Regions from separate parts of the Homo sapiens genome. Here all the other regions are linked to region 3. The links come from fine-mapping of genetic effects on gene expression. A gene starts in region 3. Each other region holds a variant in brackets. All regions are shown on one strand. Distances are from middle to middle. Region 1 overlaps BCAT1 (branched chain amino acid transaminase 1). Region 2 overlaps BCAT1 (branched chain amino acid transaminase 1). Region 3 holds the start of BCAT1 (branched chain amino acid transaminase 1).

What was found.
Region 1: its variant is fine-mapped to the expression of BCAT1 in whole blood (INTERVAL, PIP above 0.99).
Region 2: its variant is fine-mapped to the expression of BCAT1 in whole blood (INTERVAL, PIP above 0.99).

What each region holds. Positions count from the first base shown.
Region 1 is chr12:24,903,582-24,914,492 of GRCh38, forward strand. All of the region lies in intron 1 of BCAT1 (branched chain amino acid transaminase 1), which reads right to left. It overlaps LOC124902898, which reads left to right. Exons shown (of 1, transcript XM_047429951.1): 1 at 1-4,324. Among named protein-coding and RNA genes, the nearest start is that of BCAT1, 40 kb to the right of the region's middle. RefSeq lists an enhancer at 944-1,666 and a silencer at 7,874-8,168. The variant T/C (reference allele first, on the strand shown) is at 3,051.
Region 2 is chr12:24,891,244-24,901,957 of GRCh38, forward strand. It overlaps BCAT1 (branched chain amino acid transaminase 1), which reads right to left. Exons shown (of 11, transcript NM_005504.7): 2 at 10,571-10,642; 3 at 3,032-3,232. Among named protein-coding and RNA genes, the nearest start is that of BCAT1, 52 kb to the right of the region's middle. The variant T/C (reference allele first, on the strand shown) is at 7,706.
Region 3 is chr12:24,944,102-24,955,012 of GRCh38, forward strand. It overlaps BCAT1 (branched chain amino acid transaminase 1), which reads right to left and starts at 5,000. Exons shown (of 11, transcript NM_005504.7): 1 at 4,826-5,000. The coding sequence starts at 4,831. It overlaps BCAT1-DT (BCAT1 divergent transcript), which reads left to right and starts at 5,062. Exons shown (of 3, transcript NR_199054.1): 1 at 5,062-5,229. RefSeq lists enhancers at 4,894-5,243, 5,364-5,453, 7,734-7,803, 8,184-8,253.

The sequences.
Region 1 (10,911 bases), 41 kb before region 3:
CGAATTTGTAACTCGGGGTGTTATGGGGCTACCAGGCTCGCATTCCCTAAGGGCCATTTCTGCCCAAAGATCTCAATGCCTTTCATCGTTTTCAGGCAAAGCAGACCATCAAGAGCTCCAATCATACTGTTTTCATAGTTTTCCGATGTAGGCTCGTGATCGCAATATTTAGAAAGAGGACTGGAAAAGTGATGTTAGAAGTACTATTCGGTTTAGAAAGGGAAAGGAGGATTGGAATAGCTATTGTCTTATATGCAGTGTTCGCCTGGGGCAACGTCAGCCTAAATTATGAGCCTTCCTGGTTTTTAAATTAATAGGAAGTGGTAACTGGGGCTGACTTGATCTTGGAAAGAGGGGGAGGGCAGTTTATTCTGGGTGAAAGCGGTTAAATCCGGTTTGGTTTTTTAAATGGTTTCATACAACGCTACTGATAATATACTGTAGCTCTAATCTTATCAACTCAGAAAACCTACACTTTTCCTCTCCTTTATACAAGGCACAGAAAGGCCTCTTACGCTGGGGTGGGGTCCCAAGCTCCAAAGACCACAGAGTCCAGGCAGGTCACGTACCACCATAGAGCGGCGAGTGTCCCTGGAAGTCCAGGGTCGCTTATAAGATAAGTTTTGTCCTTGTTGTTTTGAGACGGAGTCTCGCTCTGTCGCCCAGGCTGGAGTGCAGTGGCGCGATCTCGTCTAATTGCAACATCCGCCTCCCCGGTTCAAGCAATTCTCCCATCTCAGCCTCCCCAGTAGCCGGGACTACAGGCCTGCGCCACCACGCCGGGCTAATTTTTGTATTTTTTGTAGAGACCGGGTTTTGCTATGTTGCCCAGGCTGCTCTCAAACTCCTGGACTCAAGCCACCCACCTATCTCAGCCTCCCAAAGTGCTAGGATTACAGGCGTGAGCCACGGCGCCCGGCCTCCATCTGTATTAACTGCTTCTATTTCCTCCCCATTAAGGGCTTCTGTCCAATTATTCCACCTAAATAAGGTCTCTAATAGCCTTCATTTTGTTCCTGCCAATGGTTTTGCTTCTCGTGCATTTTCATGGCTGCACCTATGTGCTGATGACTCCCAAATATATTTTTTCAGTCCATCTGTCTCCTGAGCAGTAGGTACTTGCTACTCAAAAATCTGTCTAAAATAAAAACGGTGTATCTATCCACCATGTTCGAAGCACTGGGCTAGTTGCTGGGGGAGGGTTGAGAGCATACCATCATCCTGTTATCATGCATTGCCCCCAGCCAGAGAGAAAAGTGTTAATTGTGTTAGAAAGTGTTAAGGAATCCCACAGACAGATGTAAAATTATAACAAGTGCTGCCTGTGCTCTAAGAGCCTCTAATAATGGATTGTATTGACTCAGAAAGGCCTGGAAAGGCTTTCAGCAAGTGATCCTTGAGCAGAAATCTGAAAGATTAAAGAAATTTACTAAAGGAAGAAGGGATGAAGAGCACCTGGTATGAAAGTGAGTTCCAGGACAAAAGAACTTCTCTGAGGAGGGCTGGAACAAAGGGCCAAAAGAGAGCCTGGGGCTGCGGTAGACAGAAGAGGATGGAGCTTGGGCTAGTGAGTAGCCAAAGGGCCAGCCAAGTAGTGCCTTAGGGAGAGCTAAAGAATAATTTTAAAAAGCAAAAATAAGGTAAAAGCCTGACTGTCATACAGGTATAAAATAAACTAAATTATAGAGTTTATTTAAATCATTTAATGAAGTTACCAGGCAGATATAAAAACTGGTTCAAAGAACAGGCATGTTTATAGGTCAGAAATATTGAAATGAATATGCAAATGAAATTGGCTTCTTCCACAGTAGGGGAGAGAAGTTAATTGAACCCTGACCTTCAGATTTTACTTGCATGACTGCATGCAATAATTATTTTGCATTTCTATCAGTCATCTGTAAAATAACTCAAAAACAATGAAACAATGTAAGACCCAATGAAAGGGCCCATGGAATCAGAATCAGATAACCTTAAAGGTTTGCTCTAAATAATTCAGTTTTCCATTGAAGTACAAATTTTTCCCTACAGTACGGTAATATAATTTCTTCATTCAAGAAGTGCTATTAGTCAGCAACAGCTGAAGTAAACCAGACATAGTAGTCACTGTACTTACTAGTTACACTAAGAAGCTGTAGCTTTAGCAGTTTTCAATTTAGCTTAACCTAGGGGCAAGAGAAACCATTGAAAGGTTAAGGATTAGGTGGAGTATGCAGGAGCGGTGACAGAATTGAAGGTATTGGCTGCAGTTTGGAGATTGGAAGAGGGTCTGGGTGGAGAGGAATGGATTTTGAAGAAGCTATTACAGAACCCACATACGAGATGATCCTTTTAATAAGTCAGATTTGGCTGGTGGTTGGTAATAGAAGTGGAGAGAAACAGCCAGATTTCAGCAAGAATGGAGATAAGGTGGCAGCCTGGGCAACATGGCAAAACCCTGTCTCTGGTAAAAATACAAAAATTAGCCGGGCTCGGTGGCATGTGCCTGTAGTCCCAGCTACTCACGGGATTAAGGTGAGAGGATTACCTGAACTTGGTGAGGTTGAGGCTGCAGTGGGCCAGGATCACACCACTGCACTTGCCTGGGTGACACAGTGAGACACCATCTCAAAAAAAAAGAAAAAGAAAAATAGATGATATAAGGTGGGACAAGGATGAGAGAAGTGCCAAGGAGGCCTCCTTGGATCTGACTTGCTTATCTATTTGGTGATGTTCACTAAGAAAAAAGGAATGTTGAAAAAGAATGTGTTTGAGGGGATGAGGAGGAGTCTGGTTTGGGACCTATGATTTCTGAAGTGTCTCCAAGACTGGCTGTGAGAGATCTGCCTGTCTGAAGCTCAGAGAAGAGGTCTGGATTAGAGGTATTATTGAATCATTGGCATAGAGGTGGTAACTGAAGCTATGGGTGCGAAAGAGAATCTCTATGTCAGTTTTCTCCGCTGTAAAATGAGACAATAGCAACACTTCATGTTTGTCAACTGGGATAGATGAGCATTAATATATGAAACTTATGTATATTACTTAGAACCATGCCTGATGTCAGCCATGCAGAA[T/C]AGGTGAAAGAACGGGCATGGCTCTGTTTCCATTAAACTGTATTTGAAAAACGGGACAGAGCAAATGTGGTCTGTGGACTGTAAGTTGCTTACTCCTGCTCTATGTAGTTGCTCTAGTAGAAACATAGCAGTTGTCCCTCAAATGCATCCAAGTGATGATCACCAATGTCTATCCATTCTTGCTCCAAATACCCTGACAGTTGCCATTTCTCCAACCATGTTATCCGCATCCTAGTACCAAACAGCTTCCAAGCAGCTCCTCTGACCCCAGCCTTGCTTCTCTTTAAGCCATTCTTAGCATGACAACCAGTGAAAATGTCTCAAACGCAAATCTGAAGACATCTCCTCTTGGTCAAAAAACCTTCAAGGCTTCACATCACCCATTTGACAAAATGATTGGCAAGCTCCCAGCCCATCCCAGATTCTGCCTTCTGCCTCTGACTCTCCAGCTCACCTTTTGCTAGGCTCTTTCTTTCTCTCTCCCCCCACACATTTAATTTATTTCAGTCCTTTCGGACATCAGGCCTTCTCACAGGTGCCCAAATACCTGTAACATTCCCTGCCTTTGCCAGGCACTGTCATCCTTCCTTGTTCAGTCCCTGTGCCATGTCCTTGGCAGGAACGTCTCTGAACCCTGTCTAGGCTACAGTGGGTTCCTCTGCTGTTTATTTACATACAATGCTTGCCATTTCAAAATAATGGTAATATTTTATTCTAATCATTTGATTAATGCTCTTCTAATTTTATGATGGGAAGTTCATGTCTGTCAGGCCTCTGAGCCCAAGCTAATCCATCATATCCCCTGTGACCTGCACGTATACATCCAGATGGCCTGAAGCAACTGAAGATCAACAAAAGTGAAAATAGCAGGTTCCTGCCTTAACTGATGACATTCCACTGTTGTGATTTGTTCCTGCCCCACCCTAACCGATCAATTGACTTTGTGACAATACACCCTCCCTGCCCTTGCGATAATGTACTTTGTGATATTTCCCCACCCTTGTGAATGCACTTTGTATGATACACCCTCCCCACCCTTGAGAAGGTACTTTGTAATATCCTTCCCTGCCCTTAAGGTACTTTGTAATATTCTCCTCGCCCTTGAGAATGTACTTTGTAAGATCCATCCCCTGCCCACAAAAAATTGTTCCTACTCCACCGCCTATCCCAAACCTCTAAGAACTAATTATAATCCCACCACCCTTTGCTGACTCTCTTTTCAGACTCGGCCCGCCTGTACCCAGGTGATTAAAAAGCTTTATTGCTCACACAAAGCCTGTTTGGTGGTCTCTTCACACGAACACACATGACAATGCCTATATTATTCACCTAGCCATCCCACCTCACCCAGTGCCGGACATGCTGTGGAGAGTTAAAAATCTGTTGAACTGCAGCTCTCTAATATTTTAGAAAGCATGTACTTAATATACTTTGGAATTTTAACTGCCAAAGTTTAGAATATAATAGACTAACATGTTCTCAGGGTCCACTCCACTCCTAGATATGAGCTTCTTTTCTTCATAGAACTGCTCTCCCTCACCCTAAATCTTTCTTCTTCCTTTTTTCCTATTTTCTGCCTTCCTCTACTCGTTGTCTTCCCTTGTACAGTCATAATAAGGACTTTATATGCATTGTGACTGTTCAAAGAGATTGGATCAATGCTTTCCAGTAGAACTTTCTGTGCTGATGGAAACGTTCTATATCTGCCAGGTAGCCACTAAGCCACATGTAGCTACTGAGCACTTCAAGTGTGGTTAGTGTGATTGAGAAACCGAATTTTTAATCTTGTTTCATTTTAATTTATATTTAAATGTAAATAGCTGGGCCGGGCATGGTGGCTCACACCTGTAATCCCCCCACTTTAGGAGGGTGAGGCAAGTGGGCAGGTCACTTGAGCTCAGGAGTTCAAGACCAGCCTGGGCAACATGGTGAAACTCACCTCTACCAAGAACACAACAAATTAGTTGGGCGTGGTGCCATACACCTGTGGTCCCAGCTACTTGGGAGGCTGAGATGAGAGGATCACTTGAGCCCAGGAGGTGGAGGTTGCAGTGAGCCAAGATCACACCACTCCACTCCAGCCTAGGTGACAGAGCAAGACCCTGTCTTAAAAAAAATAATAAACATTAAAAATTTTTTCAAATGTAAATAGCTAACTACATGGGGCTACAGTCTGAGCACCGGTTTGGGCATTGAAGTCCCTTGGTTGAGATTCGTTATCCTGGTTCTATCACTTATAAGCCCTATGACTTTTGGCAAATTACTAACCTCTTTTGAGTCTCATATTTAAACTCAGAGTAAGTAATGGGCAGTGACGACACTCAACATGAAGATATCTATAAAGGACTTAGCAGTACTTAGCACTTAGTAACTGCTCAGTACATGTTAGCTAGTGTTATATACCATGTTTTAATTTTTTTAAGACCCATTTATTTTTCAGTTATATGTAGCCCTTGGATTACGGTATACTGATGATTAGGATATTATGTGAGAGAAACCTTAAAAATATACATCTAGTGTTTCTAGGTTTTTGTTTGTTTAATAAAGTTTCTTTAAAAAAAATAAGGCCCAGTTTGGTTCAGAAAACAAACTGCACAGCTATTATTTACATGCTTCCTGGTTGGTATTGGGAAGACAATGACAGATGAGTATAATTCCTACCTGCCAAACCCTCCCCTTACTCCTGCCATGTCACGTCTCTGGAAAAGTGAGCCATAAAAAAATCTTGACAAAAGAATTCTCATTTGGGCTTATTCAATGCCAAGTCCCATTCAACGAAGTAAAATGAGCAATTCTATGTACTGTGTATGTAGTTACTGTATCATTTGCCTAGGACGGTAGTAACAAAGTGCCACAAACTGGGTAGCTTAAACCCACAGAAAGTGATTGTCTCATAGTTCCAGAGGTGAGGTGTGGACAGGCCCAGCTTCCTTTGGAACCTGTAGGGGAGAATCCTACCTTTCTTCTTCTAGCTTCTGGTAACCCAGGTGTTTCTTGGCTTGCAGCTGCCAACACTTCAATCTCTCCTTCTGTTGCATTGTGTTTTCCCTTCCTGTCTGTCTGCTTCCTGTAACTGCTTTGATTAATGGACTATGGAGAAATATGGAAGTGACACTGTTCTAAGACTAAGCATATACACTAACTGGCCAGGCAGTTTCTGCTTTCTTCCTCTTGGAAGGATCTTGGAACTACCCCACCTAGAACCCAGTCACCCCAGCTATAAATAGCCCAAATCACATGGAGGAGCCACGTGCAGGCTCATTAGTCAACAGTGCAACATCCAGCATCACTGTCAGCCCTGTGAGTGGCTGTCTTAAACATCCAGCCCAGTCAAGCCTTCAGATGATGCCGGCCCCTCATGACTGATTAAAAACACATGAGAGACCATAAGGCTGACTCAGACTGCTCAGCCGGGCCCAGGCAATCTAGAGACCATGAGAGATAAAAATAAATTATTGTTGGCCATGCACAGTGGCTCACACCTGTAATCCCAGCACTTTGGGAGGCCAAAGCAGGCATATCACCTGAGATCAGGAGTTCGAGACCAACCTGGCCAACATGGTGAAACCCCGTCTCTACTAAAAATAAAGGAAAAATTAGCTGGGCTTGATGGCGGGTGCCTGTAATCCCAGCTCTACGGGAGGCTGAGGCAGGAGGATCACTTGAACCCAGGAGGTGGAGGTTGCAGTGAGCCGAGATCATGCCGCTGCACTCCAGCCTGGGTGACATAGCGAGACTCTGTCTCAAAAATAAATAAATAAATAAATAAATAAATAAATAAATAAATAAATAAATTATTGTTTTAAGGCCACAAAGTTTGGGGTGGTTGGTTATATAGCAATGTTAACCAAAGCAGCATGCAAACCTAACATGCTTATTTCATTATTTATTTAAAAACCTAATAATAATAAATCATGCCCAAAAATAGGGATAAAAGGGTGAGATAAACATGAAATAAGTAATCCTTTAAAATATCTTTCTAACTATGGTTATTTTATTGTACCAGCCCTAGCTAAAGGCCCAGTATACACAAGGGCCAAGTAATCAGTAATGACAGTGATACAAATCCTTCTTTTAAAGTCTTCTTGATGATCAAAATTGTGTCACCCACTATTTGTCAGTTCCGATGAAATCATTGTTGTTTTTTTAATCTCATGATATGGTTAATGGAGAACTTATAATAAGAACTGGGGCCAGGCACAGTGGCACACGCCTGTAATCCCAGCACTTTGGGAGGCCAAGGCGGCCGATCACCTGAGGTCAGGAGTTTGAGACCAGCCTGGCCAACATGGTAAAACCCTGTCTTTACTAAAAATACAAAAATTAGCTGGGCATGGTGGCGAGTGCCTGTAAACCCAGCTACTCAGGAGGCTGAGACATGAGAATTGTGTGAACCTGGGAGGTGGAGGTTGCAGTGAGCCAAGATCGCACTACTGACTCCAGCCTGGTGACAGAGTGAGACTGTCTTAAAAAAAAAAAAAAATTGAAAAAATATTAGTTATCATGAAAAACATGACACATTTCCTTGTTTTACATTACTAATATTTTCATTATTATTCTGGCTTTATCCTTTTAAATTTTTATTTATGTTTGTTTAGAGTTTTTTTTGCAGACATCTCTTAAAGCCAATGTCCCTTTTGCAAAGATTATCAGTTAACACCAGATGACATAATCTGTAACTCTCCTTAACCAGGCTCACACAGACCGCCACAAATCACAACCCTCTGGAAGAGAATGAATGCGCAGGGCTACACAGGCAACCCCCTGGGAGCAGGAGCTATGCCCTCCTCTCCCCTCAGGACCCTGCTCGAAGTTTGTGACAGCGTGGCAGGGTGACACACAGAATGAGCACGTGCCAATCTATGTGAGTTAAATACAAATACAGTTTAATCTTTCCCACATGTTAGAGGAAAAATAAACATAAGTTCTTCTGACATTCCAGTGGAGTCTGTTGCATATCTCAATATATACACACCACGATGAAACTCACTCTGCGAGCAGACAAAGTGCAAATTCCTGAGCTTAGTCTGTGGGCTCCTGCACTTGCTGAATCACCTGACTCCCTCTTCCCTCCCCACCCCTCGTCCTCATTTGCACTTCCCATCTTCTTCTGCACAGGGAGGAAACCCTAAGCGTGGCAAGCCTCTAGGTCATCTCCAGGTACCTTAAAAAGGAGTGACAGATGGACAGAGAGACAAACACATGAAGATTCTGGATAAAAAGATTAGGAATTTCATTTCCTGTGTGGAAAACAATTAAGCTTATAATTTTGCGTTTTACAGAAACAGAATCACTTAACTTCTGAAAGGAGAAATTAATCCTAATTAAATGAGGCTGCTTTTTTAAAATCCAGATATTATATACTGGATTGCTTTGGAGAAAATTTTGTTTTATACCAGTACCTAAATAGCTTTTAAGAGTTCAGGTTAACCTATGCTGAGGAAATTAATAGCAAAAAGAAAAGGCCACAATCAAGACGGAAAGGATTTAAGTTTTATTAATGATTATTAAGTGCATTATTTATAGTAGAATCCACAACATATGCTCACGAAAATAAACCAGTTCTAGTAAATACATGATAAATATAAAAAATTAGAAGAGGGCTGGGCGCAGTGGCTCACACCTGTAATCCCAGCACTTTGGGAGGCCGAGGCGGGCGGATCACGAGGTCAGGAGATTGAGACCATCCTGTCTAACACGGTGAAACCCCGTCTCTACCAAAAAAGAAATACAAAAAAATTAGCCGGGCGTAGTGGTGGGCACCTGTAGTCCCAGCTACTCGGGAGGCTGAGGCAGGAGAATGGCGTGAACCAGGGAGGCAGAGCTTGCAGTGAGCCAAGATTGCGCCACTGCACTCCAGCCTGGGTGACAGAGTGAGACTCCATCTCAGAGAAGAGAAATGGTTGATGCCTGACAATGAGCAATATACATACACCCAAAGGAGAAAATGGGGCCGGGCGTGATGGCTTATGTCTGTAATCACAGCACTTTGGGAAGCTGAGGTGAGAGGATTGCTTGAGTCCAGAAGCTTGAGACTAGCCTGGACAACACAGTGAGACCCCATCTCTAAAAAAAAAAAAAAAAAATGGAGAACGTGGGTATTTGGGAAGACAGTAATCTTTTGGAAAAAGTGTTTTTCCTATGAATGTGATATATGTTCAAGAAAATAGACTGACTTATCTGATATATACCTTGTGGCAGCAAAGGGAATACTTCCCCATCACTTTCTTCAGAAGGTTGCTCAAAATCATTGACAAGGGGCAGATTAATAGGAGAAAAGTCATACAAATTTATTTGATCATAATTTTATGTGACACGAGAGCCTACAGAACGAAGACCCAAAGATATAAGGGAAACTGTCCATTTTTATGGTGAAACCCTGTCTTTACAAAAATACAAAAATTTTAATGGACAGTTTTTGTTTTGTTTTGTTTGTTTTTTTAAGAGCAAGGAGAGTATGCTTTTTAAATGCCATTGGTTCATGTGCCACAGAACCTAAAACAGCTTCAAATGGACACCAAGTAAAAAATACCAGTTTTCAGAAGTCTGTCATTATGTATTTACACAAATTACATAATCCTGTATGTATTTACAATTACAGATTATCAAGTAGATAACACAAAGTTGTAGTGTTAATGAGACAAAATAGAATAAAAACACCACAAGGAAGCCATTTGCTTATCTACCAAGCAGGACCTAGCAAGGCCGATCCTGGCATGTGCTTCAACATTGCTTGGGGACATTTATGTGACAGATGGGAAGATTTGTTCAGTCTGTGCTAGGTAAGTCTTTGACCACAGTGCAAACGTTGGCACCAAGTAGATGGTAGTTTGGCTGTCTGAGTATCTATTTGTGAAACTGGAACCCCCCTTCCACGATGGCTCAGGGTTGCCATCCAACAGGCTTTGGGCCTTTTACAACAAGAACTGGATGCAAACCCATGAGCTGGGGATGACTCACTCTATTCCCCAACAGACAATGCCCAGGCCAAAACCCTGAGCCCCCTTAGGTTAGGTTAAACAAAGTATGGAGAGCCACGTAGAAATATGATTGGACAAAAAAGGTATGGTCTAATGCTAATAGACTGAGCAGGGAAATCCAGCACAGCCTGTCTGTCTGGACCCTTCTTGCCTCTCTGAGCATGCATTTCTTCCTTCTGGGTGTGGTGCTGGACCCTCTCTGGAATGGGGGTCTTATAACCTTCAGTCAAACAAAGTGAGTCAGATAATTTCTTTATGGCCTTACACAGACAGGCTGGGGGTGGTGGAAGTTAGAGTACTATTTTTAGGTTTTATGGTTGGCTTTGGGGAAAAGGGGTTTTGTTTCTATGGCCCACTTTGGGGAAGAGGGGTTGTAGTCTTGATGGCTAGCCTCAAGGGAGAATGAAAGGTCAGAGACAGGAGAGCAGGAGCCCAACATTCCCCAGTTGAGAAATTGGGTTGGTAGATTATCTTTTTTTTTTTTTTTTGAGATGGGGTCTCACTGTATTGCCCAGGCTAGAGTGCAGTGTCATAATCTCAGCTCACTGCAAGCTCTGCCTCCCAGGCTCAGGCAATCCTCCCACATCCACCTCCCGAGGAGCTGGGACCACAGGCACATGCTACTATGCCCGGCTAATTTTTTATATTTTTGGTAGAGACAGGGTTTCACCATGTTGCTCTGGCTGGTCTCGAACTCCTGAGCTCAAGCAATTTGCCCACCTCAGCCTCCCAAAGTGCTGAGATTACAGGTGTGAACTACTGTGCCCAGCGGGTGGATTATTTTATAAGCCATTGAACTAGTCTTGCAGTCGTGAGAACAGGCCGCTCCAATTAAACGGTTAACAGTTATATCTCATTTCAGGCAGTGGTGTTGCTTCCAC
Region 2 (10,714 bases), 53 kb before region 3:
GAAGAGCCTTCAACTCCTTGAGTTTTGCAGCCCAGATGGCAATGAAAGTGACCTCTGGTCATCCTCACTGTTCATTATACACAAATTATGAAGCATTAGCATGCTAAGAGACACTCCCTCCAGCACCATATGAGTTAGGAAGCCTGTGAGCTGACTCTAACCCCAGCCACTGACAGCAACCGTGTGACGGACCCCAAGCAAAAACCACTTAGCCATCCTAGTCAACCCCAGAAACATGAAAAATAATTTTAAAATGACGCTTGTAATTTTAAGCTATTAATTTTGTTACATAGTGGTAACCATGCAATATACAATCCAGTTATTAATACAAAACATTTATTTTACTTATATTGTAAGCAGAAGACTAATAATAAAAGATTTTGGTTTTTAACAAAGGATAACAGTAATTTGAGAGTTTTTTTAAACTACCCTAATTACAAAAATCTAAATTGGCAAAACCAATCAAAGTAGCATTCCAACTCATCTAAATAGATGGCCAAAGAGGTTTTTGTTTTTTTTTTTTGAGATGGAGTCTTGCTCTGTCACCCAGTGTGGAGTGCAGCGGCGTGATCTCGGCTCACTGCAAACTCCGCCTCCTGGGTTCACGTCATTTTCCTGCCTCAGCCTCCTAAGTAGCTTGGACTACAGGCGCCTGCCACCACGCCCGGCTAATTTTTTTTTTTTTTTCTATTTTTAGTAGAGATGGGGTTTCACCATGTTAGCCAGGATGGTCTCGATCTCCTGACCTCGTGATCCGCCCGCCTTGGCCTCCCAAAGTGCTGGTATTACAGGCGTGAGCCACCTCGCCTGGCCGTTTTTTGTTTTGTTTTGTTTTGTTTTGTTTTGTTTTGTTTCAATAGAGTCAGGGTCTCATCATGTTGCAGCCCAGTAGGTCTCAGCCTTATTTTACCCAGCCCCTATTCAGGATGGAGTCACTCTGGTTTGAACGACTCTGACATTATCTACGTGGAAATAGCATCAGATCCCATGGGTGGAGGGCTCATTTCCCAAGAACCCCATCTCCCCGAAACTGCTGAAATTACAGATGTGAACCACCCCACCCAGCCTTCAAAGAGTTTTCAAAAACCAGTGACCACCAAAATCTTTTTTAACTTCCAAAAATGACATTAAATCATTTCTCATTTACTTCCCATAGGCCAGCAATTCCCAAAATGTGGTCCCTGGAGCGACAAAATTAACATGATCTGGACACTTGTTAGAAATGAGAAACTCTGGAGATGTAGCCAGCTGATTCTGATGCACATTAAGTTTGAGAACCAGTGACCTGGGCTTGGGCATATTATTCCTTTCAAATTTAAAAGCACATAGCCAGGAGCAGTGGCTCATGGCTGTCATCCCAGCACTTGAAGAAGCCAAGGCAAGAGGATTGCTTGAGCCCAGGAGTTTGAGACCAGCCTGGGCAACATGGCAAAACCCAGTCTCAACAAAATATGTAAAAATTAGCCAGACATGGTGACATGTGTCTGTGGTCCCAGCTACTCAGGAGGCTGAGGTACGAGGTTTGCTTGAGCCCAGGAGTTTGAGGCTGCAGTGAGCCACGATCGTGCCACTGCACTCCAGCCTGGGTGACAGAGCAAGAATCTGTCTGAAAAATAAATAAATAAAAGCACTTCATTTCACCTGTTCTTTATTATACCTTATGACATGGTGAGGGCTTGTGGCAAATAATGAAAGAACTCATTCAAATTGACATAACAGGAAGAGCTGGGAACAGAAACTTAGATTCCTAAATTCAACATTTTGTGGATACATATGGACAGTGAATATCTTTCCAAAATTATATGAATTTATAATTTTGAAGGAGTTAATTGCAAAAGCATCCTAGTAATTTTGGTGTATACATGTAGGGGCTATATAACAGAAAGAAGCTTCTCATTGGAACCTTAGCTCCACCCTTACTGCTGTGTAATATTAGTCAAGAAACAACTCTTCTGAGCCTCCTTTTATAATGGATGAGACCACTGCTTCAAGAGTTAATTATTATTGCTAACAACTGGGCTCTCGCTATGCACCAGATATGACTCTATATGCTTAGATAAATTACTTTATTTTATACTTATGAGATCACTGTAAGATAGATATTATAACTACCCCAATTTTATAGATAAAGAAATTAAAGCACAAATGATTAAATTCCTCAAGTCATAAAGGTTCCTATGGAGCAAATGAGACCGAATTTGAGCCCAGGATGTCTGACTTCAAAGCCTGAATGCTTAATCACATGCCTTCTCACTTAAGGTAATTAAATGAGATGATTCATATATGGAACATAATACAGAACGTATTGCAGGAATTCAGTAAACAAAAGTTGTTATTTTATCATTAATCTATTAATATTTTACTATTACCATATTTTAGCACTTAATAGGAAGACTATTATTATTTCCAGCACCCCTATTATTCTGGGAAAGATGTCCAAATCATTCAAAAGTAAAATACAATGAGAATCAAGACAATGGGAAGTATACTGTGCATCTGGTTAATTGTGCACCCTGAAAAGGACCAGAGAAAGAATTCTTTAAACATTTTATGCTTAAAATTATTTCAACTCATGGCTGAAGGAGGACATTTAATTACATGTCCCTTAACATGCATAACTAGACATTATTACTGGTCATAAAAATGTGGAGTTAGCATTAAAATCAAATCATAATATTGTTCTCAATGACCCTTTCTCAATTATTAGAAGATCTAAGAAGAAAGGTGACTTATTAAATTATCAACAGTGCTGGCTTTTTAATTGCCAATTTTCCCACCAGCTGTCCTTTCTATTTGCTTTAAATAATTTTTTTATTGACGTCACAGAAAATGCAAGATTATCTGAAAAATTAGCTGCTAAGATTTATCTTCAATCCAACTGTCTATAGGAAAACTTTTAAAGACATTTTCGGCTTCCTCTGGTAAATATGATAAAGCCCATACTGCCCAAGAGCTATTTTAGCAGGAGAAGCTACTTAGTACCCACAGTGAAGTGCAAGCATGTCACTCTCTTTAATTCCCATGTACTTACTTCCACTGCATAGTGCAAAGCTGATGAGCCAGGGTGCAATGACAGGTTCTGAAGAGGCTTGATATGAGGTTTCTCCCATCCAAACTCTGAGGACCACTCCACCGTCAGCATATGATCCGTGAACACAGTTCCAAAAACCAGATTATTGGGGTCTGGTTTTTCCTTTAAAATGGTAGCTGGTGTGACTATTAGGTCTTTAGCCTGGGGAAGAAAAATCATCACTATTTACAGAAAAGCTACTGAGCATTCGCTGGCTAGATTATACAGAGGGGAAAAAAAAAAAGGAAATCAATTGACTTTTAAAGGTTAGCAGCTAACACAGAAATTTAACACTCTGAGCTGAACAAATCATGCCTGCATTCAGAATTCGGCCAGTTATTCATAATCTCTGCAATGTACACTGCCTAATAGAATATCAGAACCAAATTTCAGTGATATATAGAAGAGGGACAAAATAGCAGATGGGGTAAGATGATGCAAAAAAAGAATACAACCCTTTTTCACTCTCACCATAGGACTCATGTTGAGTATTTGGGAAAGATGAAAGAGATGTTTTCCCTAATAAAAAATGGCAACACTCACAATGATTTGTTAAACTAAAATGAATGTCATTAAGTACTGAACTGCTATTTAGCAATGGTTACACTCCAACTGCCCCAAAGAATTGTTGGCATAAGCCTTCAAAATCCTCTGGGTGCACTGGAGAAGAAATGAGCAAAGTGAAGCAAATGTTTTCCTCTTTGAAAACAGGAAAGTTGAGAATGAACACTAAGATATAAATCCTCTGTTCTGTGTGGAGGAAACAGTGAACAAAGGAACTCTTATTTAAACAAAGATAAATCAGAGTAATAGGAAACAACTCCCCACAAGCAGCATCTCACCAGCTCCCGACATAGCCAGTTTGCCCACTGCAAATGGCCAAACATTAAGCGTACAAATTGCATGCGATACCACCACTAACTTTATAGCATCTGTGGAATGCTGACAAAAACACAGGAGACCAGCACTTTGGGAAGCCGAGGCATGCAGATCACAAGGTTTGGAGATTGAGACCATCCTAGCTAACATGGTGAAACCCCGTCTCTACTAAAAATACTAAAAATTAGCCAGGCGTGGTGGCATGCACCTGTAGTCGCAGCTACTCAGGAGGCTGAGGCAGGAAAATCACTTGAACCCGGGAGGCGGAGGTTGCAGAGAGTCAAGATCGCACCACTGCACTCCAGCCTGGGAGACAGAGCAAGACTCTGTCTCAGAAAAAAAAAAAAGAAAAGAAAAGAAGAGAAAAGAGAAGAAAAAAAGAAACACAAGAGAAGGAACTTTTTGATCAGTTAAAAAAACAGGGGCAAGTTCAACCTGTAACAGGTTGTGAAGGGATGTCAAACTCCATCTCTTTGAATATACAAAAAAAGTCTTTTCCCTCCCAAATTAAATACAGACCTTCACTTTACATCATCAGCTCTTATCATTATTTTTAAAATGATCTAATTCTGTTTAATTCACTGCCTTGCAGCTACGTGAGTCATTTGATATATTATGAATGATAGTAAATTGTATTTTTAGAATAATATTCAGGCTGAAAACATATTCCAAAACAAACAGAAAGCTCATATTACAGTGACACAAAAGGCATTAAGGACAGAATATTACTGTAATGTTCAGGCTAGTCTAGTAATGCTACTTTGTAATATGCCAATAAAATGCCAAGTTTCAATAAAAAATTGACTTTGTTCTACCATTATTATTATTATTTTGTATTTTTTTTAGAGATAGGGACTCACTATGTTGCCCAGGCTGGTCTCGAACTCCTGGGCTTAAGCAATCTGCCTGCCTCGACCTCCCAAAGTTCTAAGATTACAGGCATGAGCCACTGTGCCCAGCCTGTTTTACCACTATTTAATTCAAGTAAAAACGTTAATTTAAGACTTTTTACTAAGTATAATAAGTTTATTTAAAGAAATATATTCCAGCTAAATTATTTTTATCTTTGAATCCCTTTTCTCTCCCGTTGTCCTCTGGACTAGGTAGGGGGTCAGGCAGACTTTACTTGCAGACCAAATGCAGCCAGCTGGCCTGTTTTGAAATTAAAATGTTATTGGAACATAGTCACGCCATTCTTGTATCTTCAGTGGCAGCACAGCCAACTAGTTGTAACAGAAACCTGATGGCCCTCAAGCCTAAAATATTTATCATCTAGCCATTTAAGAAAGTTTAGCAGGCCGGGCACAGTGGCACACCCTGAATCCCAACACTTTGGGAGGCCGAGGCGGGTGGATCACCAAAGGTCAGGAGTTTGAGATCAACCTGGCAAACAGCACAACCCTGTCTCTACTAAAAATACAAAAATTAACTGAGTGTAGTGGTGGGCGCCTGTAATCCCAGCTACTTGGGAGGCTGAGGCAGGAGAACTGCTTGAACCTGGGAGGCAGAGGTTGCAGTCAGCAGAGACACACCAGTGCACTCCAGCCTGGGCAATAAGAGTGGAACTCCATCTCAAAAAAAAAGAAAGAAAGTTTAGCAACCCCTATTCTGGACTATTTAGACAAGAAGTCTGGCTAGAGTATTCACAGTTGAATTCCAAAGCTAACACAGTGCCTAGCACACAGAATAGTAAAGGGTTTCTTAAATACTGAAGATGTCTGGCTGCTTTCAGATACACTCACAGAAGATGTCCAGGATTTAAAGAGAGTGAAATTCTAACACAAACTTTTTATTACATGAATAGTTTCACAGTATTCTTGCACAATAAACACCTGTGATTTACCTTAGTTAGCTTTTATCAGTGAATGGGGAGGACCCTGGGCTAAGAAACATTTGGAGCCATATCAATACAGTACGACAAACTTAATGCAAATTTTCTTCTACTAAGACTACTTAGTAAAAGGGGAAGGGTAGTAAAACACAAAACAAAAACAGAAAGATGAGAGTGGGTGACAAGAATGATTATGATCCAGTATATATAATTTTTAGTTTTCTGAGACCTCTCCTTAAAATACCCATAGGACCCACAATAACCCACTAATCCAGAGAGATCAAATTAGCGGCAAAGCAGGGATAGAATAAGGTAATTTTTAACCTCAAATAAGTGTTCTTATAATTAGAACTTCATAATATCAGTTAAATTTCTGACAATTAAAGATAAATTATTACATTTCTAGGTATGACTTCTATTTCAGTAAACTGCTACATTCTTTCGTAAGACACATTATTTCTTAATGATATGAATAGCAACCTCTAACTTTCTGATTTGTACCTAAGCACTGCCCTGTATCCAGTTTTGTTTTGTTTTGCTTTTTCTTTTAGATGGAGTCTCACTCTGTCACCCAGGCGGAAGAGCAGTGATGTGATCTGGGCTCACTGCAACCTCCGCCTCCCAGGTTCAAGTGATTCTCCTGCTTCAGCCTCCTGAGTAGCTGGGACTACAGGCATGTGCCACAACACCCGGCTAAGTTTTGTATTTTTGGTAGAGATGGGGTTTCACCATGTTGACCAGGCTGGTCTCGAACTCCTGACCTCAGGTGACCCACCCACCTCGGCCTCTGAAAGTGCTGGGATTACAGGTGTGAGCTACCGCGCCCGGCATATATCCAGTTTTTCAAAGTAATATACGATTAGGTGGCTTCAGAATCTCATCATGAACTTTTCTCTACTTGAAAAAAAAATTCTGCAACTCTGAAAACTAAAAATAACAACTTTTAACCTGAGCTCAAAGAGAAATTACCTAAGAATACTAAATTACTAGGTGATAGAATTGAATAAAGTTCAAACGTAAACAAGCAATATTAGCTGAAGACATGTGACTCGTTTGGGGCAGATATGAAATGTAGTTTTAAGGGAACGATTTGTTTCCTAAAGGAAACAAATTTTATAAACAATTTTTATCAGTGTTCTTTAAAAAGTATTTTCTTTTTCTAGATTTCCTTTCCAAAGATAAATAAAAATAATATTTTGTCAAATGATACTTTCTTCTGCATAATTAATCTGTCTCTTTCCAATGCTCCACATTCCCTGATGACATCGAAGTCAGGATGTTTCACATCATATGTTTGTGGAAGAATTGGAATGCCACAATAACTGATTGTGAAATGGCAAGAAATATTGAGAAAAACAGGGCATATTAAAAACAACTTCCTAATTCAAAGTTTGCAGTTGGGTAATCATTTGTTCTGAAATAGGGAGGCTCAGGGCAGGGAAGTGTAAATTTGTTGAAAGCACCTGAAAACTGTTTCAGCCAGGGTTCAGTCAACACTTTTTTTTTTTTTTTTTTTTTTTTTTGCTCTGTTGCCCAGGCTGGAGTGCAGTGGCACAATCTCGGCTCGCTGCAACCTCCGCCTCCCCGGTTCAAGCAAGTCTCAAGCCTCAGCCTCCCAGGTAGCTGGGATTACAGGCATGTGTCATCGCACCTGGCTAATTTTTGTATTTTTAATACAAACAGGGTTTCACCATGTTGGCCAGGCTAGTCTCAAACTCCTGACCTCAAATGATCCACCCACCTCAGCCTCCCAAAGTGCTGGGATTACAGGGGTGAGTCACCATGCCAGGCCTGTCAACACCTTTTGCTCACCATCGTATAGCACATTTGCTCTTCTCTTCATTGGCCACATTTTTCAAAAATCAAGTCTGTATTACAACTGTATCAGACATTTAATAACTTTATTCTAGGTTCTTGTGCATTAT[T/C]CTTACTCCATTTGGAAAGCCTTAGGCACTATGTTCATCTTTTGGAGATACTCTTTTAAAATCTAATAAAGAGGATCATGAAGAGAACTGCAGATTTGCAGTGTTGCATTCTGTGGAGATATGTGAAGCTGGAGGAATTGGAAGAAATAGATGGCTGACCTCTTGCAAATGAAGAGGATCCTAGAGTCCACAGAAAGATTCGCCAGGATGTGTAACAACGTATCTCATTGCTAGGCCCTGCTGCAAAACTGCATCCTCATGTAATATGACTGCATCATAAATGGGGAGGGGAGAAGAAATACGAAAACTACCCAAGAGAGACCCAAAAGGCCATATGAAATGTTATAAATGATGTAGATTAACAAAAAGGTAGAGAAATATGTCAAAAGCAACCACAGTTAGAATGGTTATTATTAGAAAGACAAAAAATAACAGATGCTGATGAGGATACAGAGAAAAGAGAACGCTTATACACTGTTGGTAAGAATGTAAATTAGTTTATCTACTGTGGAAAATGGTATGAAGCTTTCCAAAAAAAAAACTAAAAGTAGAATGACCATATAAACCAACAATCCTACTACTGGGTATTTTCCAAAGGAAAGGAAATCAGTATATCAAAGGGATATCTGCAGTCCCATGTTTATTACAGCACTATTCACAATAGTCAAGACATGGAATCACCTAAGTGTCCATCAATGAACAAATAAAATGTGGTGCATATACACAATGGAATACTACTCAGCCATTAAAAAAGAGTAAAATCGTGTCATTTGTAGCAACATGGATGGAACTGGAAGTCATTATGGTAAGCGAAATAAGCCAAACACAGAAAAAAAAAAAAACCCAGAAAAACAAATATTGCATGTTCTCACTCATACGTGAGAGCTAAAAAAAAAAGTTGATCTCATGGAGGAAGAGAGTACTCATAGAATGATAGATATCAGAAGATGGCAGGGGGTGGGAAGGGTGTAGGTGGAGGAAGAGAGGTTGGTTAATGAGTACAAACATACAGTTAGATAGAAGCGATAAAGTCTACTGTTCATAGCAGAGTAGGGTGATTATAGTTAACAACAATGTAGGCTATATATATATATTTTGTTTGTTTGTTTGTTTTTGTTTTTGTTTTTTGAGACAGAGAAAAGTATATCAAAAACAAAGATGGTCTATAAAATCTACCATTTTTATTCCCTAAATTATCAATATCATTTTTACACATGCCTTATTACATATGTGCTGTGAATACATCCACCATAACTCATGTTTTGATGTGTAAATACATGAGTGTAAACAGGCAATTCCCCTAAATAAAACCTAATATACAGAAATCTAAATTAACAAATAAAAAAGATTATTTATGGCCAGGCATTGTGGCTTATGCCTGTGACCCAGCATTTTGGGAGGCCGAGGTGGGAGGGTTGCACAAGCCCAGGAGTTGGAGATCAGTCTGGGCAACACAGGGAGATCCCATCTCTACAAAAAATGACGAAATTAGTTGGGCCTGATGGCATGCAAGCCGATAGTCTCAGGTACTTGAGAGGCTAAGAGGATCACTTGAGTCTGAGAGATCAAGGCTGAAAGTGATACCTAATTGATGGTGCCACTGCACTTCAGTCTGGGCAACAGAACAAGACTCTGTCTCAAAAAAAAGAAAAAGAAAGGAAAAGATTATTTAAATTTGAGTTGATATTTTTCTTTGCAAAGAATTCTTCAGGCTAGGCTTGGTGGCTCACGCCTGCAATCCCAGCACTTTGGGAGGTGGATTGCATGAGGCCAGGAGTTCGAGACCAGCCTGGCTAACATGGTGATAACCCCATCTCTACTAAAAATACAAAATTAGCTGGGCGTGATGGCACATGCCTGTAATCTCAGCTACTCAGGAGGCTGAGGCAGGAGAATCACTTGAACCTGGGAGGCAGAGATTGCAGTGAGCTGAGATCGTGCCACTGCACTCCAGCCTGGGTGACAGAGCGAGACCCTGTCTCAAAAAACAGAAAAGAAATTGCAATATTCTAATTTTGCTTTTTAAAAAATCCTTGCTAAGATGACAGCAAGAGAAGGAAAAAGAAAAATAAAATAAAAATTCCTTGCAAGTAGAGACCTAATCTTGAATTCACCTTTGGATGTCCAATGCATGGCACAGTCTCCAGCACACTGTGAGAGAGCTCAATGTGTGAGAAACTGATGAGTCAAGTTTCCTTCCCTCTCTGAACCGCCAGGATGTGAGATCATTAGGACACTCTGTGTCAATTGTCTGATGACAATTGACAGTGACTCAAACAGGCAGAAGAGCAGCACTAGGCATAAAAAGAAGAAGCTAAAACCTCCACGAGGAGGGAGGGTAGGAGATAGACTTATAGAAAAAATAATATTACATCTTACATTTGTATTTGTACAGTTTTCAACGTGCTTTGTTTCTCACTGTTTGAAGTATGAGCTATTTACTATATAAACCCCGCAATTCAGATAGAAAAGAAGAAAATGCAACACTTTCACTGTAGAGTGTTATGTGCTACTGAAAGAGAAAAATCACAGTTTAACTTTTTCTACAAGTAGACTGAAGGTTTGTACGTATTATGGAATCTGATAAACAACTAGTTTAATATTTACGCATTGACTATTTTTCAAGAAAAATATATGACTCAAAATAAAATCAGCAATTAGCTGCTAGATAATTTTTGTTGTGATGAATGTACTGTCACTCTCTAAATGGCTTTTTTTCCTCTAAGAGTGGAATTTTAAAAGTCTGGCAACACAACCTAGGAACTGGGTAACCCACACAGTGAAAATTTCCCCGAATCTCAACAAGAAATGGATTTATTCAGTTGAACGTTGCTTTAGACACTAAGCCTCTGGCAAGCAACTTACCTTAAAAGTCCCCACCACCTCTTTTGATCCTCCTTCTCCGGTACACTCTGCGGAGCATCCGTTACTGCAATCCTTAAAGAAGAATTAAACCACCATTAAGTAAATGCAGGTGGGTAAGCGGGACCCGGGGTAACCTACGTGACG
Region 3 (10,911 bases):
ACTATTCTTATAAGTGTACAGAGCACTCACCGACACTGAAAACCATGGAACCCTGAGTCATGTATTATGCTTCCCCATGTAGACTTCGCAGCTGTCTTTTAACTCTACCTTTTATCTTCAAAGTTCAAGGAAACATTTATTATGATTTCAAATTCCTGAACTCACATCTAGTCCTAAAGTCAAAACAATATAACTTGGTATCTAAATCAACTGAAATGAAATGAAATGCACTTGGCAAAATCACCCTTTTATGTAGTGGTGGAATGCTAACAACTGCCCTGTGACCATCCTGTGCAAATCCACCCTTGGCCTCATCCCAGGATATACCCAAACTTCGTCTCAACTGTGTCTCTTTGTCAGTCACGTTAAGAGACAGCTGTGGAATGTTTGGTCTAGAATATCCCAACAGGTGCTCCTTCCGTCTCAACTTCTATGGAGTCAAATAGAATTTGATCTGTAATCCTATGTCCCAGGCTTCCTAAGTCTTCCTAAAGCAGATATCCATTTATAGTCAAAACAGCAAAAACAGTTCTCACACTGAGGGATAAACCGTAAATGCAATTGATGAAACATTCAAATCTACACACCGAAATAAAGAACTGACAAATGAATTTGTTCTTTTTAGATTAAAGACTATTCTTAATGGAACTAGCTGAGTTTTGCAAGTATTTCACAACTTTCAATAAGAAAGAGCCATATGTTTTTCAGTATGACTTCAGTTTATTACTTGTAATTTCCTCTATTTTTTTCTTTATTGGTCTTCCCTGTTTCCATTCTTCCATTTTCCTGTATTTTTGGGACATAACTGTCTCTTTCTTTTAGAGTTTGTTTTTCCCATTAATTACTGAACACAAGAAAAATGTTTTGCAAAATAGTCTTTCCCACCAAAAAGGTATAACAGTAGAAAAACGTTTATGTGACATGCTATGCTGTATTCATAAGGTAATCTAATTTCCAAGCTATTTTAAGGATATGAGTACTCAATTTTTAGGGGAAAGATAATTTAGCTTTGTGGACTTTAGAGCACAAATTATAAGCATAGTTGAAACTGATACCTGAACCTGGTGTTCCAGAAAAGACAGATTCTCCTTTGCGTTCACCATTGACATTGTGAGTCACTGACAAGGTCTTATGATGAAACTGTTTACCAATATTTGCAAAGTCATGTTTATGAATAAAAGCACCTAAATGCTTAATTTTGAAACATTTAAAAAATGTGAGTTGCACCTCACATTTATTTCTTGGCTGAACTGCATACAATCCCATTGCAGTGGCCTTAGTTGAATGGACAGAGGCTCAGGAAAGGCCAACAGTAGGAACATTTACCATATGTTAGGTGAAATGTATAGACCAGTTGGACAGCTGTTAAGGGGATAATGTTACAATACAAAAGCTGCCTATATTTTTGACAGTAAAATGAGCAGATCAGCCATAGTTTCCTCCTGTGCTCAAAAAGAATGATAGCACATGCCTGTAATCCCAGCACTTTGGGAGGCCGAGATGGGCAGATCGCTTGAGGCCAGGAGTTCCAGACCAGCCTGGCCAACATGGCAAAACTCCGTCTTTACAAAAAAATACGAAAATTAGCTGGGCATGGTGGTAATCCCAGCTTCTCAGGAGGCTGAGGCACAAGAATTGCTTGAACCTAGGAGGCAGAGGTTGCAGTGAGTAGAGATCACTCTGCGGCACTCCAGCCTGAACAACACAGTGAGATTCTGTCAAAAAAAAGAAAAGAAAAAAGAATGATAGCATCATATAGAAAGTAGAGGATAGCTGGCACAATTATGTCTATCATGGAAGGTCCCAGATTCTCACTCTCCAGTATAGCAACCAAACCTTCCTGAGCATAAGGCTGATCATGCCACTGGGTTTCCCTGGGGTGGGCATCTGTTATTTAAAGAAACTGTGGTTACCAACACTAAAGGGAAATAAAGAAAGTTCTTTATTTTCCAACTTCCTATACCAGTTGAGAAGAGGCCATTTAAAGAAGCTGGCAACCTGAAACCCCAAAAGATGTAACTAATACAAAGGCTCAACATAGCTGCCATTTAGAAACAATCTTTCATTTATGCACAGGAATAATTTACTCATAAGCCCAGCCCTCTCAGTTAGGTTAATAACACCACTATCAGTTTTCCAGCTGTTTACTTCCCTAGCTTTATTTCTAGACATGAGAAATAAGGAACAAAATATATAATTAGGAAAACAATTGGAATGTCAGCCTACGGACAAAACTGAGACAAAATTTATATAAGTAGAGAGTATATTGAGGTCAAATTTGAGGACTGCAACCAACGAAACACCAAATCAAGTTGCCCTGAATATATACAGCAGTTACAAGTGGGTTTTTAAAAGAAAAAAGAGGCAGTTTCTAAGTTGAGAAGAATTTATATTAAAATAACATAAACTATATAAACTATTGATAGGCTAAACATTGTTTTTTTGTATCACAAATTCCAGGAACATAATGAGTGAGGCAGTTAGTCAGGAACAAAATGTCTTTAAATAATTACTCCTGCGCATGCGTACGGGGGGACGTGACTGAAGTCTCACACTCCTATCTCTCTGGGCCTGATAAATTGTGTAGCCTTCACAAAGCTCAGATCGCTCTGCGCTATTTTTCTTTTTTCAGGGAGTTGCACAGCTACTGACAGAAAGCACATCTTGGTTTTAGTCCATAGTACAAAACTCAATTGTGATCGAATGTTTTCAACTTCCTTTCATAATAAGGTTTTAAACTCATTTCAAATAATTAGATCTGGTTCTAATGAGCTGAAAAGCAAGAGAAATTCTTGCGTAAAAAAGGAAAAATATTTTTCCCCTTTTCTCTCTGTAGTTCTGAAATCCAGTGAAATTACTCATTACTGAAACTTATCAGATGAAAATATTGGCCAGCATTAAATTCTTTTCCTCCCCAACCCCCACCTCTTTTTTTCCTTTTTCTAACCACCACCCTTTTGTTAGGCCAGCTTAACTAGCTTTACATCTCTGAGCCTAGCCTGAGGGGCCACATCCTGTGTCTGGAATGTAAAACCTCTCTCCCCACTAGGCCTCCCGTCTTCCCTCCACACACACACACACACACACACACACACACACACACACACACACGGACTTCCCTTGCCTCCAATCCCATTTACATGTGTATCATTTTTAAATCCCCATCTAAATTTATTAAGTCATAATACTCACTTACCATTTTTGTACACATGCTACTCAGTGTATATCCTATGTTTCTTATCCAAGTTGCCCATTCTGCATGTGTCTGTCTTAAAATACAAGCTCATGCATGACTTAAGCCCGGAGAATTTGCTGAGGACAAAGGCAATCAAGATGCCATGTGCAAATAACATTTTTTTAAAAAATCAAGCTTGTGATAGCAATACATATTTAAGAGATAAGTGGAAAGATGTTTGAAATATTGTGATAAAACTAACTTAATGGAACCTTCCATACTTCTTCGATCATACCTAGAATACAATCATTTCTTTCTTAATCTTAGGAAATATCAGGAAACAGAAAAGAGACTACTTGTAGATATCTTACCTAGTTCCCCATGTTATAAAAGTATCTTGTGGAAGGGACAGGGGTTTTTGGACCTACAAAAACGCGTAATTAACCACAACTGCACATGGACAGGAAAAAGCTGGAAAAGCAAGACTGTTCATTCTTAGTTTTCTCCTTTTACTTACTAAAGCTATAATCAACTAAAGTGTGTTTTTCATCTGAAATGAAACAAGCATGAGGAAGCCAGAAATAGAACCTCTAACTATAGAAGAAAAGTTGTGTGATCTCTGTTGAATACAAAAACGCATAGTTTCCACTCGGTTACTGTTTAATTGTAGTGAAAGTTTTTGTTTGGCAACAAAGGCGCTATTTACATATTATTTCTTCTAAGTGAAACTATGGTCTGGGATGGGTTGTAGATAAGAGCAGTTGAGAACCACGCTTCATCTCCCTCCTTAGAAACTCTGAAACGAGGCTTTATTCCTACCAGAAGTTCAGATTGCATTATGGTCATCTCAATTCCAAAATGTTAGATGGCAAGAATATCTGCCCATCCTTCACTTTCCTTGGAAAAAGTTGCTCTTCGGGTTTTATATGCGATTGCAGTTTTCCAGTGTGTGAAACTAGGAAAACAAAACACTCAACGGTGTACATCCCTACACCTAAATAGTCAGAAATAATAGGCAGCTAGGCTAATTATCCTTGATTAGCAAGATCAGAGCCATTAGGGTGCTCACTGGTTTAACAAATGAATGCCCTTAGGCGTCTATCATTTGTAACTCCTAGAAGCTTTAATTTCCACAAGAAACAAAATAAGAGGGGCCTTCTGCTTTTAACAGTGAAAAGATCGTTCTCCCTCCCCTCTCCACCCGGGTCAACTCTTCCAGCCGCTCCCTCCTGCATCACGAACACACGCTGCAGGAAAGCGCATTTACAGCCCGGGACATCCCCAGACCTCCTCTCCAAAATTCCCCACCTCCTGTGCATAGGAGAAACTGAGAGAAGCCCTCACTTCCTTTCCAAACTTCACAAGCAGGGGAGGGAGCTGTAGCAGACTTTCACCTCCGTTCCCAAAAGCGAATGTGAAAAAGTCCGAGAAGGCACGTCCTGCGAGTGGAGGTTAAACCGAAATCTGAACAGAATGCACGGTCCCCGCAAACTACGATTGATAAAGAAGATACTGAGACGTTTGCGGGGGATATAAGCCATGGTTGTCTCGCCTTCCTCCCCTCCCTGCCAACTATGTTTCTTGGAGAAATCGCCGGTTCGATTCACGCACACATTTTTGTAAAACACGGACAAAACCATAAGTAGTTACCTTCATTGTTCCGTCGGCCACGAGGGAAGCTCGAGCTGAGCGGAGGGCAGATCCCAAGGGTCGTAGCCCCTGGCCGTGTGGACCGGGTCTGCGGCTGCAGAGCGCGGTCCCGGCTGCAGCAAGACCTGGGGCAGTGCCCGAGGCGGCGGCGAGTACACGTGGCGGGCTGGATTGCAGACCGGCCCTCTCGCGGCGGAGACTCGCGACCTAGCGGATTGCATCAGCAGGAAGACACTAAGGCTGCTCCCCCAGGCCGCCCCCAGATGGTGGAGTCTCTCCCAGCCCGAAGATTCGGAGCCAGCGCCCAGACCCGAGCCTCACTCACTGCTCACTCCCGGGGTGCAGGGCAGAGGTGCCAGTGTTGCAAGCAAATGACACGGTTACCCCCGAATCAGCCACTGTGGGTGCGTATCCGAGTGTGGGGATGCCCGTGTAACATTTATATGGAGACGTCAAGGAGGAGGAAATAAACAGATCAGAGGTCAAATGTGATTGCCATTCCGTCATCACTGGCTCCTGCCCACCTCCCTACTGTCCCCAAAGTAACTTTGCTGCATGCTGAGAGGACCACGGCACAATCCTGCCCAAAAGTATACATGTATCCCCCGCGGCTACTTTAAATGTACTTTTGCAGTAGTCAAGAACATGTGCCTGGTTTGCCGATCTCTTTCCCAGAGTTCCTTAGTCACCCTCAAATATAACCATTTTTGCCAATTTATTATGTACATGGGGGAAAATTTTTAATCCTTTAATTTGAGCATATAAAATTCTTTATAATGTGAAATTGCCCAGTAGCCTAGTTGGTCCCCTGTAAGTTCCCTCCCCACATCTATACAAAGCTCCAGGATTGCTACTTTTCCATGTCCAGCGCCTAGGTCAGCCTCCATGACTGCTTAAGTGTGCTGCTGGTTGACCTCCGCTGCCTCTCTGTCAAGCTGGCAAACTCCTATTTTTGTAAATTTCAACCCAAGTCTTTGCTGTGGAAGTTGCTTCCAATGCCCTCAAACAGAACTGGGCCCTTGGTCTATGTGCTGCACTTTGTCCACATCCTTTCTCAAAATCAATTATTTTATTTTATCATTTTTTAATGGAGATGGGGTCTCACTAAATTGGCCAAGCTGGTCTTGAACTCCTGGCCTCAGCAATCCCCTCGCCTCCGCCTCCCAAATTGCTGGGATTACAGATGTGAGACTGTGCCCAGCTTCTTAATTTTACTTTAATTATTTGTTTGCACAGTTGTCACTTCAGTGGATTATGAGATTCGTAAGGGCAGATCCTTTGTCATATTTATCTCCCATACCAAGTGGCCTGCCGTGGAAGAGAGGGAGTGTTGAAAACAAATGTGTCAGTGCTTAATGACTGTTGGTCAGGTGAATGAATGGTTAAATTATGTGTTCAATAAATGTACTGAGTGATTTCTACATGCTAGGCTGGTATATAACAGTGGTTTGTAATCTGAAATGTCTCAAAATGGAGCCATTTATGACAAGGGTTTCAGCCTCCAGTGAAATTGCTGACCCCTCAAATTGATAAGCATATGTATGGTGGACTGAGGTGATAAGATAACACCTGCTGTGGCCTGGCACCATTGGCAAGAGAGTAAAGAGAGAGGCAGCTGAGATAATGGCTATGGGCACTTGCGGATGCTGTGAAAACCAAAAAGTAATGAAAACCTGAAAGTAACTGACCACAGCCAAAATGCTTGCAGAAGTTCTGCCCTGAGAAATCTGTATCTGTAAGCATTTAATCAGCCATTGAGTCCTTGTGAAACCTCCTGGCCCCCGTCAGTGAAAGCACAGCTAGATAGATTTGAACCTGACACTGACATGAGACAGGCAATGTGCAAAATGCTAGGGACTGAGTGGGAAACAACAAAAATGTTCTTACCCTCATTAAGCTCATATACTAGTGTGAGAAACAGAAAGTAAGCTTTAAATCAGGTAGCAAAATGTTTATCAACTGAGGAATGGCTAAATAAAACATGGTATCATCCATACAATGGAATATTATTATATTCTGCAATAAAAAGAAATGAAGTACTGATTACATGCAGTCACATGGATGAACCTTGAAAACTATGCAAAGTGAAAGAAGCGTCTCACAAATGACTACATATTATATGATTCCACTTATCTGAAATGTGCAGAACAGGAAAATCCATAGAGACAGAAAACACATAGTTGTTTTCAATCTGGGGACAGGGTGGAATGCAGAGTGAATGTTCATGGGCGTTGGATTTCTTTTTGAATTGATTAAAATGTTCTCAAATTAGATTGTGGTAATGGTTACACAACCCTGTGAACACACTAAAAACCACTGAATTATACCCTTTAAATAGGTGAATTGTATGTTATGTGAATTATATCTCAATAAAGATGTTACTCTATGGCCCGGCATGGTGGCTCACACCTGTAATCTCAGCACTTTGGGAGGCTGAGGCAGACAGATCACTTGAGGTCGGGAGTTCGAGACCAGCCTGGCCAACATGGTGAAACCCCGTCTCTACTAAAAATTAGCCGGGCGTGGTTGCGGGGTGCCTGTAATCCCAGCTACTCACAAGGCTGAGTCACAAGAATCGCTTGAACCTGGGAGGCAGAGAGGTTGCTGTGAGCCAAGATCATGCCACTGCATTCCAGCCTGGGCAATAGAGCAAGACTCAGTCTCAAAAAAAAAAAAAAAAAAAAAAAAACAGGTACCATGTGGTAAATTTTATGAGAAAGAGTAATAAGGGGATAGAGAGTGATGGGGTCATAGATATAAATGCATTAATAAGTTCTAGAGCAAGCCTGGCAATTACTCCTAGATCCAACGACCGCCCCTCGCCCCCCTCTCCCTCAATGCAGGATTTTTCTCAGTCCCTTTGCCAGTCAAGGACCTCTAGCCGGCAATGCCGGAGGCCTAGCTCGGGGCATACTACCTGCTGCAGGAGGCACCCCACGCAATTTGCCCGCCTGAGACAAGTTTGCCTTGCACATTGGTTCCTGAGTTCTTGCCCCATGCCCAAGAAAAATGAAGATGTGCTGACAATTGAAGAGTGAGCAAGGCGGGGAGTTTTACTGAGGGATGAAACAGCTTTCAGCAGAGAGGGAAGCGGGGGTGGTCCCCCTACCCGAAGGCAGGAAAGTCTCCTCCATGAGGCTGAGTCCTGGGGCTTTTTATCGGCTCAGAATAGGGGAGGGGCAGGCAAACAGGAACAGAAATTCTCACTCTGCGTCATGGATTTCATCCAGGACCAGCAGTCTGGTCTTTCAGCCTTCAGGCTGTTTTTGGCTTGAAGGTACAGTTTCACCTCCAACCCTGTTGCTGTTACCCCTACTTAAGGATTCTTTTGATGTTAGCAACAAAGGAAGAGAGAAGGTAGTATATATTTAAAAAAAAAAAAAAAAAAAGAGCTTGAAGGGAAGTGAGAAAGTTAGGGAATTAACATCCACAGAAGAATATGAGGGCCGGGCGTTCACGCCTATAATCCCAGCACTTTGGGACGTCAAAGCAGGAGTTCAAGACCAGCCTGGGCAACATAGCAAAAGCCAGTCTTTACAAAAAATGCAAAAATTAGCTGTTTGTGGTGGTATGTGCCTGCAGTCTAAGCTACTCCCAAGGCTGAGGTGGAAGGATCACTGGAGCCCAGGAGATCCAGGCTGCAGTGAGCTGTGATCACTTCATACTTCACTGCACTCCAGCCTGGGTGACAGAGTGAGACATCATCTCCAAAAAAAAAAAAAAAAAAAGAAAAAAAAAGAATATAAGAACAATCTAGCTATGTCTCTCCTCCCATTTCCCTTTAGTGTTGATAGAAGGGCCCCACAGTTCTCCCTCATTGTCAACTGTAAACTCCCAAAGCTTCTCTCCCAGACAACACACATGCTTTTCCCAAATGATGAGGCTCATGATCAACGAAGGTTGTTACTCTGACAGTGGCACTGTACTTCAAACAAGTCACAGTAAAAGATATTTAAGGAAAACTGGATCCAAACTGGATATATACCATATACCCATCTATGGGCAGTGTCTTTTACTGAAGAAGAGACAGCATTTCTAAGATTTCTAATAGACACTAATTTTGAGGTTGACTCCAGAGCGCCAGACAGTCCAGCTTCATTTTGTCCTCACTGTTATTAACAAAGGCTTTTATTGCCATCATTATGAAAAATATGTGCCAACTACCTGCAGAATGTCTTCCCTGTATCTTACTAAATTTTCTCTAGGAAAGCAGAAACTCACAAATATTCTCTGCCTTGAGTTATTAACAGTTCCTGGAATTTGAATAGGAGAGTTTACATAAGGCAATGATACTCTGTCTTAAAAGAGGAAAATCTACTCTAAAATTCTACTCTACACACTCAGAAAACAATGTCATTCTCTTTCTCTATTTCTCATAGTAAAAAATACTTCAAAATTGTACTGTTTTTATATTTCCTATAATACTTGCATTCATTGCCCATTACATACATGTGCACACACACATGCATACACACACAGACACACACCAAGTTCAATACTCGAAAATCATTTATACTGTACTTTTTGGGAAATTTCCCATGACAATTTTGACTCACTGGATTTATTTTTATCCTTGTTGTACACACTCTAGTACCTAATCCCCATGTAAAATTAGATTTACTGGGTTGGGCGCGGTGGCTTATGCCTGTAATCCCAGCACTTTGGGAGGCCGAGGTGGGCGGATCACGAGGTCAGGAGATCGAGACCATCCTGGCTAACACGGTGAAACCCAGTCTGTACTAAAAATACAAAAAATTAGCCAGGCTTGGTGGCAGGCACCTGTAGTCCCAGCTACCGGGAGGCTGAGGCAGGAGAATGGCTTGAACCCGGGAGGTGGAGCTTGCAGTGAGCCGAGATCGCACCACTGCACTCCAGCCTGGGCGACAGAGCAAGACTCCATCTCAAAAAAATAAAAATAAAAATAAATTAATTCCTATCTATTTTGAAAGGATATTGTAAAGTCTTCTTTCTGCTAGTTCTCTAGAACCTCTCAGGGTACTTTCCACCCTGACGCACAAAGCTATCCTCCTTCTCCTTGAAACTCCTCCCTTCCACGATAGGATTCTGAATCTCCTCCAGCCTCTCTGGCAGGTCCTTACACCTTATTTATGATCACCTCATGCCCTCTAAATATAGGCAAGGTGTTCATCCCACCTGTATCTGATCTTGAATCTCCTCTTTATACTCTGTCCTCTAGTGTCTCTACTATGACCTGTAGTCTGATAACTTTTAAAACTATACTAGATCTCTGGTTCATCTCTATTCTAACAAGCCCAATTAATCCAAATCCAAGCACATAATCTTCCCTTTTTAACCTGCTTCCCTCTCTCTGCTGATGTCATTAATGTGCTTCCAATTATCCAGCCTCCAAACTTTCATATAGCTCCTATCTTTATAGATAGTACTTAAAGCAAGAGAGAAAGATATGAGCCTCCCCCATCCCGTAATCACTAAGCCGTCCCAATTGTATCTCCACAAAATCTCTTAGTCATCCCCCTCAGTTCCCACTCTCACTGCCCTAGTTTGGTCATTCATTGTACTTTCCCTCTGGATTACTGTTATCCCTGCCTTTAATCTCTCCCTGCCCCAATCCACCCAACACACAGATGGCTAGTAATCTCCCTAGTCCTCCGTTCTGATTAGATTTTTTTCTCCTGTTCAAAATCATGCAACTTGCACTCAGATGCTCTGGTGAGAGCCTGACATGAGTACATGTTGTGTGCCTAAGCACACCTGAAATCTTCCATCATTGTTTCTGCACAAATGCTCCTTGGAATTTCTTTTCCTCCGACTTTGCTTGGCTAAATGATATCCAGTCTTGGAGATCCGTTTTAATTACTATTGCCCCATTTGCAGCCTTTCCTGAAGCACTCCTTGTTATAAACCAGTGATTCCCAATTAGGAGTGATTTTGTCCCCCTGGGGAGATTTGGCAATGTCTGAAGACATTTTTATTATAATACCTAGGGAAGTGGGGGAGATTTGCTACTGGCGCCTAATGGGTAGAGGCCAGGGATGCTGCCAGGCATCCTACAATGCACAGGACGAGCTCCCACAATAAAGAGTTATCTGAGCCAGGCGTGGTGG